Regions from separate parts of the Homo sapiens genome. Here region 2 is linked to region 1. A link means that fine-mapping ties the variant in region 1 to the expression of a gene that starts in the linked region. Tissue or cell type: whole blood. Region 1 holds a variant in brackets; the other region holds the start of a gene. All regions are shown on one strand. Distances are from middle to middle.

Evidence for each region. PIP is the estimated chance that this variant, and not a neighbour inherited with it, causes the effect.
Region 2: PLEKHM3 starts here. The variant in region 1 is fine-mapped to the expression of PLEKHM3 in whole blood (TOPMed, PIP 0.95).

The regions. Positions count from the first base shown.
Region 1 is chr2:208,051,077-208,055,481 of GRCh38, forward strand. It overlaps the pseudogene RNA5SP116. Among named protein-coding and RNA genes, the nearest start is that of PLEKHM3, 28 kb to the left of the region's middle. The variant A/T (reference allele first, on the strand shown) is at 2,424.
Region 2 is chr2:208,023,495-208,027,899 of GRCh38, forward strand. PLEKHM3 (pleckstrin homology domain containing M3) reads right to left here and starts at 2,033. Exons shown (of 8, transcript NM_001080475.3): 1 at 1,895-2,033.

The sequences.
Region 1 (4,405 bases):
CCTTCTGCCATGATTATAAGTTTCCTGAGGCCTCCCTAGCAATGTGGAACTGTGAGTCAATTAAACCTCTTTCCTTTATAAATTACCCAGTCTCGGGTATTTCTTTATAGCAGAGTGAGAACAGACTAATACTGGGAGTTTGAAGGCTTTTGTGCAAGAAAGTAATGGGATAAAACCAATGTTGAATGCTAGATTGGAGTAGTCTAGACATAATGTAGTTATACTGAAAAAGAAGGGTCAGGTCTTAGACACCCTAAGAAGGGAGAATTAACATCTTAAGAAGGGAAAATTAGGTCTGTAAACTGGTTGTTTCATTTAAGTAAAAGATCAGAAGGACAATTAGTCATTCAGTTTTAGATATGTTAGGTTGACCTTTGATTTTCATATCTAAAAATGTCAGGCAAATCAAATTATGGGTTCAGCAATCTGCTTCCAGTCAGTAACAGAGACATTAGACCATGAAACATACAAAGTAAACACTAACAACTCCCTCCACTCCCATCCCTCCATTAAAAAACAAACAAACAAACAAAAAAACCCACCTCATTTTGTAGCTTTTGTTGATTTGCCTCCTAGTAACCAATCAGGAGGCAGTTCAGTACCTCTCTCTTCAAACAGTTACTTACGTATGCTCCTAGAAAGAAAAAAATAACTATGAAGCCATATTTATATAGATGTATACTTTTTAAATTTATTCAAGTGGTTTTGAATTCTGTGTCTACCACTAAGTTACCATGCAATCTCTGGCAGGTCGCTTAAACCTATTTGTGCCTCTCAGTGTCACCATCTAGAAAATGAGGGTGATGATATAAAAATATAGGGTTCCAAAGAAGATTAAGTGAGTTATTGAATGTAAAGGACTTAGAAGAGTGCCTGTCACATAGCAAAAGCTCAGTAAATATTTGTTATTTTTATTGTTTTCTTGGAGATCCTTTCATATCAGCCCATATAACTATAATATTTTTAAAAGGCTGTATAAAGCCGGGCATGTGGCTCATGCCTGTAATCCCAGCACTCTGGCAGGCTGAGGCGGGTGTATCATTTGAGGTCAGGAGTTTGAGACCAGTCTAGCCAACGTGGTGAAACCTCGTCTCTACTAAAAATATAAAAATTAGCTGGGTGTGGTGGCATGTGCCTATAATCCCAGCTACTCAGGAGGCTGAGAGAGGAGAATCGCTTGAACTCAGGAGGCGAAGTTTGCAGTGAGCCAGGATTGCGCCATTGCACTCCAGCCTGGGTGACAGAGTGAGACTCTGTCTCAAAAAAAAAAAAAAGAGAAAAGAAATAAAATAAAAAATAAAAGGCTGCATAATAGTCCCCAGAATGGCTAGCTCCAGATTTTCAGATTTTTCTATTATAAACGATATACTTGTACATCTATATTGGCAAGTTTTTGCAAGTATATCCATATGGTAATTTTTTGAATTGCAGAATTAAAGGATGTGGTGTATTTAAATTTTGAAGGATATTGCTAAATTGTCCTCAAAAAAGTGTACCAATTTGCACTCCTACCAATACAGCATGAGAATGACTGTGTCTGTATTCTTAACAACATTTATTATTATCTAGCTTTGTAATATGATAAACAAATTCAAATCGCTCATTGGTTTTTTTTTTACATAAGCTTTTAAAAAATAACAGCTTTATTAAGATATAATTCATATGCCAGGCAGTTTACCCATTTGAAGTGCACAATTCAATGGTTTTAGTATTTCACAGAGTTGTGCAAGCATCACCACAATCAATTTTCATGACCTCCCCCCAAAACTGTATCTATTAGCAGTCACTCACCATTTTCCCTCTAGTCCCACCCCCTCACGCCTTAGGCGACCATGAACCCACTTTCTGTCTCTCTGGATTTACGTATTCTGAGCATTTTATGTCATTGGAATCATAAAACATATGCTCTCGTGTGTGGCATTTTTCACTTAGCATAACGTCTTCAAGGCTCATCCATGTTGTAGCACGTGTCAGTTTTTCATTCCTTTTTATGGCTGAATAACAGTCTTTTGTATAGATACAGCACATTTTGTTTATCCATTCATCAGTTGATGAGAATTTGGGTTATTTATACTTTTTGGCAGTTATTTAATAATTCTGCTTTTTATTGCCAGATAATATTTCATTATATGGATATACTCATTATTTTTATATGCAGTTATTTAATTGTGAATGAGACAAAGATTTTAATAGATTTGACCATTTTCTTTTTGATTTGTTTTTACTTACTGAGTTGTACAAGAAGTTGTATATTAATGATTTTCTTTGCTTGCCAAATGTTGCAATATTTTTTCCACTTTGTATATATTCACATTTTTCTCTTCCTTTAAGACTTTAGAATTGTGTGTCTTGCCTAGAAAGTCTTTTTATATTACATCTGTGTAGTGTGGGTATAAAAAATAAAACAAAAAAAATGAAGAAAA[A/T]ATCTTATTATTTTATTTTACGTTTTCTTTTCTTTTTTTCTTTTTTGAGACAGGGTCTCACTCTGTTGCCCAGGCTGGAGTGCAGTGGCACAATTATAGCTCATTACAGCCTCAACTTCCTGTGTTTAAGCCATCCTCCCACCTCAGCCTCCCAAGTAGCTTGGACTATAGGTGTGCACCACCATGCCTGGCTGGTCTGCAACTCCTGAGCTCTAGCAGTCCTCCCACCTTGACCTCCCAAAGTGCTGGGATTACAGGTGTGGGCCACAGCACCCAGCCTAGAAATTATTTTTAAACTCCTGGATTATATATAAATAAACTCACCAATAAATGAATAAATTTATTTATTTATATATTTATTATATATAAATAAATTCACTCAAAACTCCTAATTATATATAAATTCACCAGTTTTTTAAAAACTCCTAGATTATATACAACTCCTAGATTAACATATATTTCATACTCCAGATTATATATAAATTCACCAACTATATAATCTAATATATATAATAGTAGTTCAAAACCAGTATATGTAACAAGTATAATATATACATATAAGTATATGTGTGTGTATATATATACTTATGCATGTGTATGTGTGTGTGTGTATATATACATATATATACACATATATACACTTACTTGTTTATATTACATTTCTCTCATCCAAGTATTAAGCAGGCCCCCAGACCTAACCCTGCTTAGCTTCTGAGATCAGATAAGATTGGGGGCATTCAGAGTGGTATGGCCATAGAGTATGTATTATATTGCTATCTTTGAATCCTCTGGAAATTTGGGAATATAAAGAGCATGGTAAAGAATCCATTTTATTTTATTTTCCATTCCTAGCCAGTTTTCTCATCACTGTCTATTGATTAATACATCTTCCCTTCTCCCATCCCTCCCCTATAAATTCGACTCATCTACCTTTTTCACACATTAAATCTGTATACGTATTTGGGTTTATTTCTGTTGATTCTCTTCTATTCCATTCTATTCTATTTAGCTATTCTATTTCTTCTCTAGAATAAGATATTTTAATTATTATAACTCCATGATACATTTTAATGTATAGTTGTATTAATTACCCTCTCACTACTCTTGTTTTTCAGAGTTTTTCTAATTGCCCATTTATATGTCTTGAAGAACTTTAGTGTTATTTTTGTCAGGTTGAAAAAAATCACCTTGGTGTTTTATTTGGCATATACATTGAATTTACAGATCATTTAAGGAAATCAATGTCTTTATAATGTGAATAGTCTCTCTTAATGTTGTAGGCAAAGAGGGAAAATCTGAAGAGGAAAAGGAAGAGGAGGAGGAGAAGGAGGTAGAGGAGGGGGAAGAGGGGAATAAGGAAGAAAAAGAGACAATTTCCTTCATAATTCACATTCTAAAATATGACGTAAATTGCATTTCCCTCTGAATAGCACAAAACACTTTTAAAACACCATCTCAGTCTCTAAAACATCTCAGCAGTATGCAATTACTATTGCTAATTGATAGACTAAAAGTTCAAGGCACAAACTTGGCCATGTTCTTTAACTTATATAATCATTCTAAAGTGATTTCTTTTCTTTTGGGTACTTATGAAGAACTGAGTGTAAATCTTTCCTGCCTACAGGTTTTTGGCAGCCCCTGCTGGAGTAAGATTATGTAATGGATAGGGGTAACAGCTCGCATATCTATATGCAAGCAATCTAATTGACAGCGACTTTATTCTGATGTAAGCTACTTTGCGAAAATTTGGACTCTTACCCCAACTTCAACTTTTATCCCACTGTCAAAATTATTTCCAGATTATCCAAAGTGATAGGTAATAAACAGAAAAATAGATTAACACTCATTCTTAGCTTCTTAGACCTCTTAATTTTGAACAGTTTCCTTTGGAGAATTGTAAAATTAAAGGTTATTTTCCCACAATTTTTCTCCTTCTAAATATTTGGATAACACACTAGGGTGACTAAATGGATACTTCGAGC
Region 2 (4,405 bases), 28 kb before region 1:
ACAGTGAGCGATGGACCAGCCACGCATTGCTGTTTGAGCTCCGCCTCCTGTCAGATCGGCAGCAGCATTAGATTCTCATAGGAGCGCAAACCTTATTGTGAACTGTGCGTGCGAGGGATCTAGGTTGCACGCTCCTTATGAGAATCTAACTAATGCCTAATGATCTGAGGTGGAACAGTTTCATCCCGTAACTATCACCCCCCTACTCCCCGACCCCACACCACCCGCTCTGTGGAAAAATGGTCTTCCGGTCCCTGGTGCCAAAAACCACCAGGGGACCGCAGCATTAAACAACAAATCCCCATTGCCTGCCTCCCTCCAGGCCCTGGTAATCACCATTCCACTTTCAACACTGGCATATTTTTATTTTATATATTTATTAACAAACATGTATATAGCAATTACTATATGCCAGGTACGGTTCTAAGCCTTGAGCTCAGGAGTTCAAGACCAGCCTGGGCAACATGGCGAAACCCTGTCTCTACCAAATGTACAAAAATTAGCCAGGCGTGGTGGCTTGTGCCTATGGTTCCAGCCACAAGGGAGGCTGAGGTGGAAGGATCGCTTGAGTCCAGGAAGTCGAGACTGCAGTGAGCCATGATCACGCCACTGTACTCCAGCCCGAATGACAGAGTAAGACCCTGTCTCAAAATAAAATAAAATAAAATAAAATAAAATAAAATAAAATAACAATAATAAAAACCCTAATGAGGTCAATACTATTATTATTCCCATTCTACAGATTAGGAAACAGAAGCGCTAAGTAAACTGCCCAAGATTACACAACTAGGAAGTGACCAAGCAGGAATTCAAACTGAAGTAGTCTGGCTTTATAGTTTTTGCTATAAACCATGACATTGTAAAAATATTCATTGTAAAGAAAAACTCATCAGGAATTAGTATCATTTCTTCTATGTATATCTATCTATTGTAGGTGCAATTTAACCTAATATTCATCTCCTGTCTAAAAGACTATGTGACCAAGGTTACAAATGTCTACTGATATTTTTAGAGACTAGATATATAGCCCAGCTTTTGTTAAGGCATTTTCTTGAAGTCAGTCAGTCAAAAACTGCCTTGTATTTTAAGTATGCCAATTATAATTTACATGTAGTATTTTATAATAAAATACTTTATAAATACAAATCACAACTCACTACGATTACTTAAAATATAGAGAAAAAAATTCAGCTGTTTCTCTCTGGTCCCTTCCAAGGAAGAAAAAAGAAGAGAGAAATAAACTTCTAAATAAGTTTACAACAGCATGGCTCAATCTCAGTTTAACCTGGTAAATTCAAATTTGTCTTGCTTTGCAAGGTATACATCCAGACCAGTCTCAATTTGTCATCCAAATATATATCTCAGTAGTAATTTATTTTTGTTTAAGGGATGAGTGTGAGATTTTCTTATCTTGATTTTTTAGCTTAATAATTCTTTCCTACAAGACCAAACCATGCTTGTCATCAGTCATGTGGTGTCATTTACTATACATTAAAAACGGACAGAGTCGACAGAAAGAACAATCGTTTTCTGGAAGCCCCAGCCTGATGTAGGTTAAAAGCTCTGCTGGGGTTTGGTTTTATAATCCCCAGGCGGGGATGGCAGGGATACTAATAACGCACTCAACAAGATCACCTACTATTTCAACTACTTTCTCCTCCTATTACATACCTGATTCACAAAAATAAGCAGACAATGCATCATGTAATCTCCCCTCACCCATTAGCCATTGCAGTGTGGTACAATCTCCAGCACGTAATAAAAACCTGAGCATGCAAGAAACAGCAAAATCACTGCTATCCCTGGGAGCTGCTCGGATATTTACAATGCAGTCGTCCCCACCCCATCCCCCAAACTGGCCGGCCAGGCAGCACAGAAGCAGACGGATGCTCACCTGGGCCCCGGCTGCTACTCTCCATTCACCTGCGGGGCCTTCAGTCCGCTCCTGGAGGGGCTTGACTCCCGCAGCCTGCCGCCCGCCTCACGGTGACAGCCCGCCCGGGCGCTGACCATCCCGGCCCGGCTCTGTTTACAAGCGGCTTCTCGCGGTCCCACTCTGAAATGCTTCCGCCGGCGGCCCGGGCAGCCAGAGCCGGACACACAAGGTTCCAGGCCGCGAGGACGAGTCTTTCCTGCCCGAGGGACCCGGCAGCTAGGCAAGGCCTGACCGCACCCGCCAGGCCTCCTTATTTCTTTGCTTTCTTATATACAGTTCCTCTTGTACACATTGTGAAAGCAATGGCGTGTGTCGTGGAGTCTCCTCACTGCTCCACCCAACGCCAAAATGGGTGTTTGCGATTGGAAAATGTCACTTAGAACATGTCAGGATCGGGCTGGTTTTTAGCAGCTCCCTTGTCTAAGGGAATTAATTACTCAAATAAGTTCTTTCCAAAAGTGGGACTATTCTGGAGATTGCTTCTCATTTCCGGTTTTGGGGCTGCAGTGAAAATCCGTTTTCACTGTCCTTTCCTACGCAGGTTGAAAAGGGGTGGTTTTGAGGTGAGGTCTTCACCCCCACTTGCGGATTCCCAGCAAAATAGGGTGTGCGTGTGTGTGCACGCGGGCAGGACTGCCTGGTAAGACCGCCCACATCCCACCTGCAGTGACTGTGGTCGCTTTGCAGGGATATGCTGGTCTGATTGGACAGACCTTCCTTGCAGTTTCCTGTCTGTTTTCCATCATAGCACACTTCTTAGCCATTTTCTCACTTTATAAGTACACACTTATTTATCAGTTTTATTGGTTTTCCCACGCTCACCCATCTCACCTATAAACTCCCTGAGGGCAGGCACTATTTCAGTTTCACTCACCACCATCTAGTAGGCACCTAGCACAGGCCCAATGTATATATATCTGAATAAATGAATGAACAAAGGAATGATAAAAAAAAAAAAAGGTCAAAGGGGTCAGGGATGAAACAGAAATCTAAAACTCTGATTCCTCTTCCCACCTTCCCACCCTCCAGAAGATTAATAAGCAAATCTTTAAGCTTTGAGTTAAGAAAAAATTTCCTTTGGTTGATATTCAAAGTTTAAATAAGCTTTCTTTAAACCCTGCAATTTGAGGTACTTTTTTTTCTGTTTTGCTAGAGACAGGATCTCACTCTGTGCCCCGGCCAGAGTGCAGTCGCACGATCATAGCTCACTGCAGCCCTGAACTCCTGGGTTCAAGGGATCCCCCCAACTCAGCCTCCTGAGTAGCTAGGACTACAGGCACGCATCACCACAACGTGGCTAACTTCTTTTTTCTTTCTTTCTCTTTTTTTTTTTTTTGTAAAGGCAAGGTCTCCCTGTGTTGCCCAGGATGATCCTGAACTCCTGGCCTCAGGCAATCCTTCTTCCTTGCCTTCCAAAGTGCTGGGATTACAGGTGTGAGCCACCTCACCTGGCCAGAGGTACATTTTTTGTTTTGTTTTGTTTTAATTACCAAAAGAGAATATTTGCAGTATTCTCTTTTGCCTCAGGACTTTGTACATGTGATTCCCTCTGATGAGAGTTCTCACTCCTGGCCCATCCTCTTACTTAGGCTGGCTAATTTCTCTTTGCTCTTTAAGAAGCAGGTAACAGGTGCTTGGTCTCTCAAGTCACTTGCTTGGTCTTCTTCCAAGTGTTCTTTTCTTCTTTTCCTTCCCTTCATTACTACTCTAAAGCTTTTTAATAAACTTTCACTCTAAAAAAAAAAAAAAAAAAGGCCGGGTGTGGTAGCTCGTGCCTGTAATCCACGCACTTAGGGAGGCCAAGGCGGGTGGATCGCTGGAGGCCAGCGGTTCGAGACCAGACTGACCAACATGATAAAACCTCATCTCTACTAAAAATACAAAAATTAGCAGAGCATGGCGGTGCACGCCTGTAATCCCAGCACTTTGGGAGGTCGAGGCGGGTGGATTGATTGAGGCCAGCAGTTCGAGACCAGCCTGGGCAACATAGTGAAACCCTGTCTCTACTAAAACGAAAATTAGCCAGGCATGGTGGCACACGACCTGTAATCCCAGCTACTTAGGAGGCTGAGGCACTAGAATCGTTTGGACTCAGGAGACGCAGGTTGCAGTGAGCTGATATTGAGCCAGTGCACTCCAGCCTGTGCAAAAGAGCGAGACGCTGTCTCAAAAAAAAAAAAAAAGCAGATGACATCACACCTCTTCTGGAAACCTTGCCTGATAGGGGAACCTGCTCCTTTTATGCACTCCTAGAGGATCTCATGTGTTCCTTTATAAATGTACCCATTACATTGTGCTACACAGATCAGTCTTCCATTGGATTGGTGGTTCTCAAAATTCACATGGAACAGAATCTTCTAGGATGGTGTTTCTCAAACTTTAACGGGTAAGAATTCTGTCAAAATGCAGAATCTGATACAGTAAGTCTGGGATGGGGCCTCTCCAACAGTCATGATCTCCTAAGTGATG